Linked DNA regions of Homo sapiens: region 2 is linked to region 1. The links come from fine-mapping of genetic effects on gene expression. A gene starts in region 1. The other region holds a variant in brackets. All regions are shown on one strand. Distances are from middle to middle. Region 1 holds the start of LINC01088 (long intergenic non-protein coding RNA 1088). Region 2 overlaps LINC01088 (long intergenic non-protein coding RNA 1088).

Region 1 (4,411 bases):
GTATTTGCTATTATTATTTATCAGCTGTGAGCATCACTCATTATGCTGTAAGGTGCACAAAGGCTGGAATTGTTTCTGTATTTCCCACTCCTCATATCTGCTTTCAAATAGTTTTTGGAGGAAGAAAGTTGTGAAATCCCAAAGTTTCCTCTGCCATCACTAAATCTCTTCATCTCATTCACAGCTCTGCCACATTCTCTACGGTCACCACCATTGGAGTTGCTGTCACCACAGCTACCACAGCCCCTTTACTGACACATCCAAATACCTTAAGTTCAAAAGGCTGTGGCATCAGATTCAGAAAGAAGAGTGCTAATTCTAAAAGATAGCCATTCGAGCAGCAGCAATGTAACAGATGTTTTGTTGATTTAGCAATTATTTCAAAGGTAACAAAAACTCTGGCTAACAATAGAGGAGGAAGGAGCTTACGCTCCAGAAGAAACACACCAACAACTACAAATTCACAGCCACTATCCACCAAGGGGGTACAAAATAATAGTAAGAATAACAATAACAAAAACAACAATGAAAGCACTAAGATGCTTTCAAGGGAGGCACCATAGCAGAGTCGTCATGAGCACAAGACCTGGATCCTGCCAATCTGGGTCTCAAGCCCATCTCTGTTACTTACTAGCTGTGAAACGCTGAGCTGTTTCTTAATTTTTACGTGATTTAGCTTCCTCTCTGAAAAATGAAGATAAAAATAGTATCAGCACCACTACAGTATTACTATAAGGACTAAAGAATTACCTTTTGTAGAGAACTTGGAACAGTGACTGGCACATAAAAAGTATTCAATTAATGTTGGTTATTTTTGTTAATTGAAAGAGTTTTCACAGACATATCTCAAAGGACCAGCACTGAGAGTTTTCCACACATATATTATGCAGACACACACACACCCAAGACCTTTTTCCCGACACCTCACATTAACACTACACTTTGATACAGTGTGTACTCTCTCAGGCCCTTTCCTTGGGCTCTTACACAAAGCCAAGAGTTCTGCCTGTTGCTCTTTTCCCTGATGTGACTATTACCTGTGTTAAGACAGGTATCTTAACATGCATAGATCTTAAATCAATCTATGCATGGCTACCATTATTTCACTGCAGAACACGGACTAATAGTCCCAGCTTTACTTCTCAATCGAGGCTTTCTGTAAGAAGAAGAGCTTCCTATCCAGGTTTTCTTATGAACACACAAAGACCAATCTTTTATCCATGGCCTAACCCAGTGTTTACCAAACTTGAATACATCTGAAGACTTGCAAAGCTCTATCAATTTCTGTCTGAGAGACATATTCCAACCCTTAAATTTATGAAAGACTCAACAAGCTGAAAAAGCAAGCAATACAATTTCAGAGAAGTAGTTTATCCAAGGATACATGGACAGTAAAAAGTAGAACTATGCCTTAAAACCCTTCTTTTGACTTTAGTACAATGTTTTCTTTTAAATTTTATTTATTCAAGAAGTTTGGAATTTAGAAATCATGGAGATGATTGGGCAAACCTAATACTAAAGGAAAAGTCAGATAATCCATAATATCATTGCTTTTTATCCCATTAAAAAAGCTGAGAATACTAATAAAGCTAACTTAACTAAAATCTGTATAGTTATGATCCCGTTCTATAAAAGAAGAGACCAGTGAATTTTTTCATCCCTGGTGGTGCAGCAGGAAACAGAATCTACCACAGAAAAGAAAATGAGGAACTACATGAATCTTAGACAACTATTAAGACCTGTGTGTGAACTAGCTTGACATGCTGGAGTCCCAAGGAACCCATCCACACCATCAAGCTGTACTCACCTGCCAGCACTTTACCACAGGTCTTCACCAGGCACAGAGGAGGACTATACTGAAGACTGAGGGAAAGTCAAGAAATCTGAGAGAGAGAGATCCTTGAGGCATGTGAACCTTCCCTAAGTGCAAGGCAGCATCCCAGTGAAGACTGGAGTCAGGGCAGAAGAGTTAAAAGAAATCTGTCTGAGAAAGTCTAGGCCTTCACTAGGTCAAAACAGTTGCAACGGAGGCCAGAAATAAGGCAGAAGAACTGAGAACAGTTGCTCAGAGTGTTGCAAACTTTCATTAAGTACAAGGCACTGGATGCCAAAGGCTTGAAGCAGCAGAGCAAAAAGAAGAGAGACCTCCTGAGATTAATAAAGTCAGAAACAGGAAAGGAAAAAGAACTCCCTAGCAACCAAAACAGTCTGGGAGCACACAGAGATCTCTGAAATCTTGCCAGTGCTCAGATCACAAGCCCTAGTGATAGAAAAGACCTTATTCTGTTTTCAAAACATTTGAAGTCAGTGGTAAACTAATCCAACTAAAGCTGAAATAATCCCACATACCTCAAATATACAACAGATTTCCTCAACTTTCCCAAGAAAAGGTCTAACAAAAAAAGTATGCACTTTTTTAGGGTAAATAAATATTAATTTTCTCAATCTCTACTATTTTTCTCACAATATCCAACATAGAGTAAAAAATTTTGAGACCCACAAAGAGAAAAAATGTGAGCAATAATCAAATGAGAAAACAGTCAACAGGCTGAGACTCTAGAAAGCACAGACGTTAGATTTATCAGGGAGTAACTTCAGCATAACTATGATAAATATGTCAAATAATTCAGTGGAAAAGGTAGAGAGCATGCATGAATATATAGAGAATTTCAGCAGAGTAATGAAAAGTATGAAAAGAAACCAAACTGCAATGTCAAAATTTGTTTTTAAAATACACTGTCATCAAAAGAGAATACATATTAGGAGTCTAACAGGCCATAAAACACAACAGTAGCCTATTAGCAGCAGCAAAAAGCAGAAGTAAACCTGAGGACAGGTCAATTATCCAAAAATAAATAAATAAATAAAAGGGGGAATGAGTGAAAAACTTGAGTCTATGATCTCTAGGACAATATTAAGTAGCCTAGTAAATATGTAATTGCATCTGTGAGAGATAGAAAATGAGTCAGAAGAAATCCTTGAAAACATAATGGCCAAGAATTTCTCAAAATTGATTAAAAATATCAAACCTCAGCATCAGGAATCATAGTAACCCCAAAAGAGGATAAACACAAAAACAGAACTAGGCACACCATACTCACTCTGTTGATAGCCAAAGATGATACAAAAATCTTAAAAGCAGTCAGAGAAAAAAGAAACATTACACGGAAGAAAAAAATGATAAAAATTATGTCTAATTTCTCTTCAGAAACAATTACTCCAAAACAATGGAATGACATCTTTAAAGAGCTGAAAGTGAAACATGTTAGTCTGGAATTCTGTATAGGATTCTAAATAGATTCTACATAAAATTGTAGCATAGTCCTATATCCTACAAAAATGAAAAATAAAGACATTTTCATACCCTTCTCCCCAAATCAGATTTTTTTTCCAGGAGACCTACACAAGAAATGCTAAAAGAAATTCTTCAGGGCCGGGCGCGGTGGCTCACGCCTGTAATCCCAGCACTTTGGGAGGCTGAGGCAGGCGGATCACAAGGTCAGGATTTCGAGACCATCCTGGCTAACATGGTGAAACCCCATCTCTACTAAAAATACAAAAAATTAGCCAGGCCTGGTGGCAGGCGCCTGTAGTCCCAGCTACTCGGGAGGCTGAGGCAGGAGAATGGCATGAACCCAGGAGGTGGAGTGTGCAGTGAGCCTAGATAATGCCACTGCACTCCAGCCTGGGTGACAGAACGAGACTCCGTCTCAAAAAAAAAAAAAAAAGAAAAAAGAAATTATTCAACATGTACATAATAGGCACATAAAATAGGCACAACAAACCATTTGGCAAAATCCAACATCCATTCCTCATAAAACGACTCAGTGAAAAAGAAACTGAAGAGAATTTTCTCAACCAAAAAAAAGCACCTATGAAAATGTATTATACTGAAAGATAAAAGACCAGAACAAGACAAGAATTTTTACTCTCAACACTTCTATTCAACTTTGTCCTGGAAGTTTCAGCTAGTACAATAAAAAAAGAAAAGAAAAATAAATAAGCACAGAAATCAGAAAAGAAGAAATAAAACTGTCTTTATTCACAGACAATATGATCATTTGTATAGAAATGTGATGGAATCGAGAATCAAAGCTACTTGTACTAATAAGTAAGCTTAGCAAGATTTCGGGATACAAGATTGGCATATAAAATCAACTGAATTTCTATATACTAGCAACAAGTTATTGGAAATTGAATGTTTTAAATGTCGCTAATGATAACATAAAAATATATAAAATAGGGATAATGTACATAAAAGATGTGGAAAACCTATAAACAGAAATCTTAAAACATTGTTGAGAAAAAATAAAGAAAAAACAAAATAAATAGATATATTAATTAGCCAGTAATATATAAAATATTACTCAATATTTTAAAGATGTCATTTCTTCCCAAATTATTCTACAGA
Region 2 (4,411 bases), 250 kb before region 1:
AATATTTTATGCGTATTATAGAAAAATGCAATTAAACAAATTAATACTATTAGGTACCAAGACTTTCAGACATTCAGCATAAAGATTATATATAATCACATATATTATTTATATATATCTTAAAAGTTAAGAAAATCCTATATTACATTTGAAATGTAACTATTCATAGAAATTCAACACACACACACACACACACACACACACACACAGACACACACACGCACACAAACCTATTCCATTGAAAAGTCACAGAAAGCCCAGCACAGTGGCTCATGTCTGTAATCCCAGCACTTTGGGAGGCCAAGGCGGGTGGATCACTTGGGGTCAGGACCTCCAGATCAGCCTGGCCAATATGGCGAAACGCCGTCTCTACTAAAAATACAAAAATTAGCCGGGCGTAGTGGCGCCTGCCTGTAATCTTGGCTACTAGGGAGGCTGAGGCAGGAGAATCACTTGAACCCAGGAAGCGGAGGTTACAGTGAGCCGAGATCGTGCCACTGCATTCCAGTCTGGGTGATAGAATGAGACTCCGTCTCAAAAAAAGTCACAGAAGTAATGACAGTCTTGTAGCAGTGAGCATGCTAGCCCAGATCTTACTCCTAGGCTTCTTGGGACAATGGCTGACTTCGCACATAGGACAAGAAAGTACAAGGTGAGCTCAAAATAGTTTATTATGTTAGAAAGCAAAGCAAGGCTCAAAAACTAATGAAATATTGGTTGGATATGGTTTGATATTTGGGGACAGTTGGAGAAACTTGAACATAGACCAGATATTATCGTTAATTTGCTGCTACTATTATGCTTATGTAGGAGAATGGTTTATTTTAAAGGAATATATGTTGAAAATATTCATTCAGGGATGAAGTGTTGTGATACATGTGACTTACTTCCAAATGGTTCAGAAAAAATGTATATATACATATAAATACAAAGTAATATAGCAAAATATTTATAATGACTGAATGTGAAATGGAGGTATATATGTGATCATTGTATTAGTCTTTCAACTTTTCAGTTTGTTTGGCATTTCTATATTTAAGAGTTGAAAAAAATGTCAATGCATATCATATAGCACAAATAACAGGAAATCAAGCTTATGTTTCCCCTAAGGTCCATTTTAGTCCTTCGATTCTAGAATCACAGAAAAGGAGATTGAGAATAGTGGTTACGGATAATAAAAGAAAAATGGAGGGATTAAAAAACAGCTTTCTATAAGCCAATATCATAACAGCTTGCTCATTAGATCAGTGTGATTACTTCTTTATTAGGCCTTATTTGAGCTGTCATCTGGTATCAATTAGGTCAGTTATAGTCTGTCAGGTCTACTGGAGGGAAATGGAGCAAGGTCCATCATGGTGAGGATGGCATAATTAAAGCAATGGAAATAATGACTACTCTTCATTTAACCCTCATCCAATCGACCAAGCTCATATTGGCCTTCCACTCATATTGAATGCTAAAGATGTGGAAGGAGAGAAAAAACACTTCCAAAACAGTTTTTAAAATCTTGTTTCAATTTAAAGTCAAATCAAATCAGATTATAAAGAAAATATTGTAGGGACTTAAAAAAGTAAAAGGGCATAACCCATTTATAAATATGTTTCTTAATGATTTAATTCTATATTTACATGTGTATATATGTTATATATCATGTATTATATATGTATATACTGTGAATATTTTTCAACAAAAAAGGTGTAATAAAAGTGAACATCTCTGAATATTTTGCTAAAGTGCAAAAATTTTGCATGGTAGTACAGAATTAAAAGAAGACCATTGATATGAATTGAATTCAGCATATACATCTCTTGATCCTTAAAGAATCTAAGCAAAATCCTGAGACCAAGATTGTAGCTATGTTGAAAATCTTTCCAAAGTAATTTGAAATCAGGTTGATTTTATTCAATTACACCTCAATTGTAAAGGTAACAGAAGAAGCAAAGAAGACATAGAAATCCATTTCAATCTAGACATTAAAATATTAAAAAATAGC[G/A]GAATTGAGGTTGGGATAATTACTCCAAAAAATTGAACTATGGTGAAATTTCACTTTTATACTCCTGATAGGTAATAAAGTATTTGGACTAATAGTTATCATATATGACAGATGTGAGTTATCAATTTTAATAACTCTTGGTTTTATTAGGTTTTAAATTAGACCTAAATGTACTTCAAAATTCACAAACCTTTAATGACTCAGAAAGCTTTTTAGTATTTTATGGAGTTGTATATGTAAAAATACAGCTAAATATATAGTCACCATAGACTATGTTGTCTAAATTGTTTTTCCAACCAAAAAAAAAAAACTAACTTATTTGTCACTTCCTTCTTTCCTAAATAAAGTACAAAAATGGGGAATATGAAGGTGGGGAGCACATTACATACATGTTTAAGTTATATTGTTAATTTTGATTACAAATTAATGGATGTCTAGCTGAGTGAGGACACATGATACTGATCTGTATTCTCTTACCCCACTGCTGCCATGAAAGTAACTGTTTGACCTATCTTTGACAACTCAATCTTTCTGGGCCTCAGTTATGTCATTTATGAAATGAGGAGAGTATATATTACCAGATAATCCCTAGGTTACTATTCAGTTTTAAATTCTGCACCCTTCATGACTTAGTTACCTCCCTCTAAAGTCATTTACCTTAATGGGAAGGAATTAGGCAAGCACCAAAAAAGGAAAAGTAATATCAGACACTTCTACACATGTATTATTTCTTCCTTCCTTCTCTCTTCCTTCCCTCCCTTTGTTTCTTCCTCTTCTCTCTTTTAAGATTTAGGGATTATTTCTTGTTTAACTGATAAAATTACCTACAATGTAAGATATTATGGTAATTATAATATCCTGTCAAATGTTCTACATTGTCACAAAATTTGCAGGTCTTACTTCCCATATGAATTTTCTAAATCTTTTATCATCAACTGATATCAGCTAATGGCACAGTTACACCACAGCATCTTAATTAGTTTAGCTCAAGTGTAATTTTGGTATGATAAAGCTATTCACTATAATAATTCATGTGCTTATATTTTTCCTTTGATCTTCCCAAAATTCTGATAAAACATTGCTTGACTCTTTACAATTTAAGAAGCTATTAGTGTTAGACACAAGATTAAAGATTGCATCTACCTCTGTTTTAAACCTTGATTTTTTGTTCATACAATCCTTTTTCTATTTACTCTGCCAAATAATAGTAGTAGAAGGAAGTTTTAACCCCAAGCTTTTGGGGGAAAATGAGATAGTCACCAATATTACCACCTAAAATCATGGCAAAGGTATCTGCTATCCCAGTCTCTGGCAGCTCTTTCACAGCTTTTCATCTAGAGTTTGATAGGTAGTAGCTTTCCATTGCCTTCCAAATGAGCCTAGGAGGCCAGTTCACCAGGACTCCCTGCAGTTCTAACAGAACACAGACAAGTTGATCTGCATCCCAAAGCCTGCCACTGGGGCTATATGAAAATGCTGCCTCACTAATAGAAGCACAATATGCAAGATGCCAGTGCATCTCTGTGATTTACAATATGTCTAATGAGCAAACCCAATGAAGAGGTTTGTTGTCTACCATAAAACCACATGGATGTAAGCAGTGATTAGAAGCAATTAACTCTGTTCAGCACTAAATAACTTTCTGTCATTAATGTACATTTTTCCACCTCATTAGAGGTACGGAGGAGAGCATGAGGTAAGGTGCACTCAATTTGAATTTCAGATATGCATATGTTTGGTGGAAAAATTCCATAAATTTGTGAGGAAAACAGAATACATGTTAATAGAGGCCTTGTATTGAAGCCATTTTTATTCCATCAATACTGGCTTGGGCATATACTCAATTTTACCAGCCATCCACCACTCCTTAGGTGAATAGGAAGCTCATGAAGTCAAGTTCTGGTAAGAAACACAAGAGGTGGTCAACAAACTAGTGACAGTGAACATAGATTTTCTTTTTATTTGCTGTCAATATAATAGACTATTCTTTTAAATGATTAGTGATGTCATTTCAAAGAATAAATCTAGAAAATATAATATTATTTAAGATACTTTTTGGGAAATTCAGCCTAAGACATCCAAAAATGTCACTCAGCCCTCCTCTACAAATATCAAGTGTATATAATACCATTTCAGTCATTTGATGAATTTATTAAAGAAGAGAGTTTTGCTAATTGATAGTCTTAATTAAAAAATAAACTTTGACTCTACCCACCAAAAAGAAATCTTTCAAAATGTATTGACTTTTAAAAATAATGTAAGAGATGTTCTGGGTCACAGGCTTATAGTATAATATTAAATGAGTAAAGGAGATATACTATGATCTCAAACATACAAAAGCAAGCTCAGGAAAAATGTGCAAATAAATAAACTATAATAATATTAACAGATATTCTAGAAAATGGGACTCTGGATGGT

What was found. PIP is the estimated chance that this variant, and not a neighbour inherited with it, causes the effect.
Region 2: its variant is fine-mapped to the expression of LINC01088 in blood mononuclear cells (TOPMed, PIP 0.91).

Annotation. Positions count from the first base shown.
Region 1 is chr4:78,969,273-78,973,683 of GRCh38, reverse strand. It overlaps LINC01088 (long intergenic non-protein coding RNA 1088), which reads right to left and starts at 1,936. Exons shown (of 6, transcript NR_038342.1): 1 at 1,808-1,936; 2 at 632-684.
Region 2 is chr4:79,216,236-79,220,646 of GRCh38, reverse strand. The region is part of intron 4 of LINC01088 (long intergenic non-protein coding RNA 1088); the gene reads right to left. It also overlaps a transcript of NAA11 not described here. Among named protein-coding and RNA genes, the nearest start is that of NAA11, 110 kb to the left of the region's middle. The variant G/A (reference allele first, on the strand shown) is at 1,994.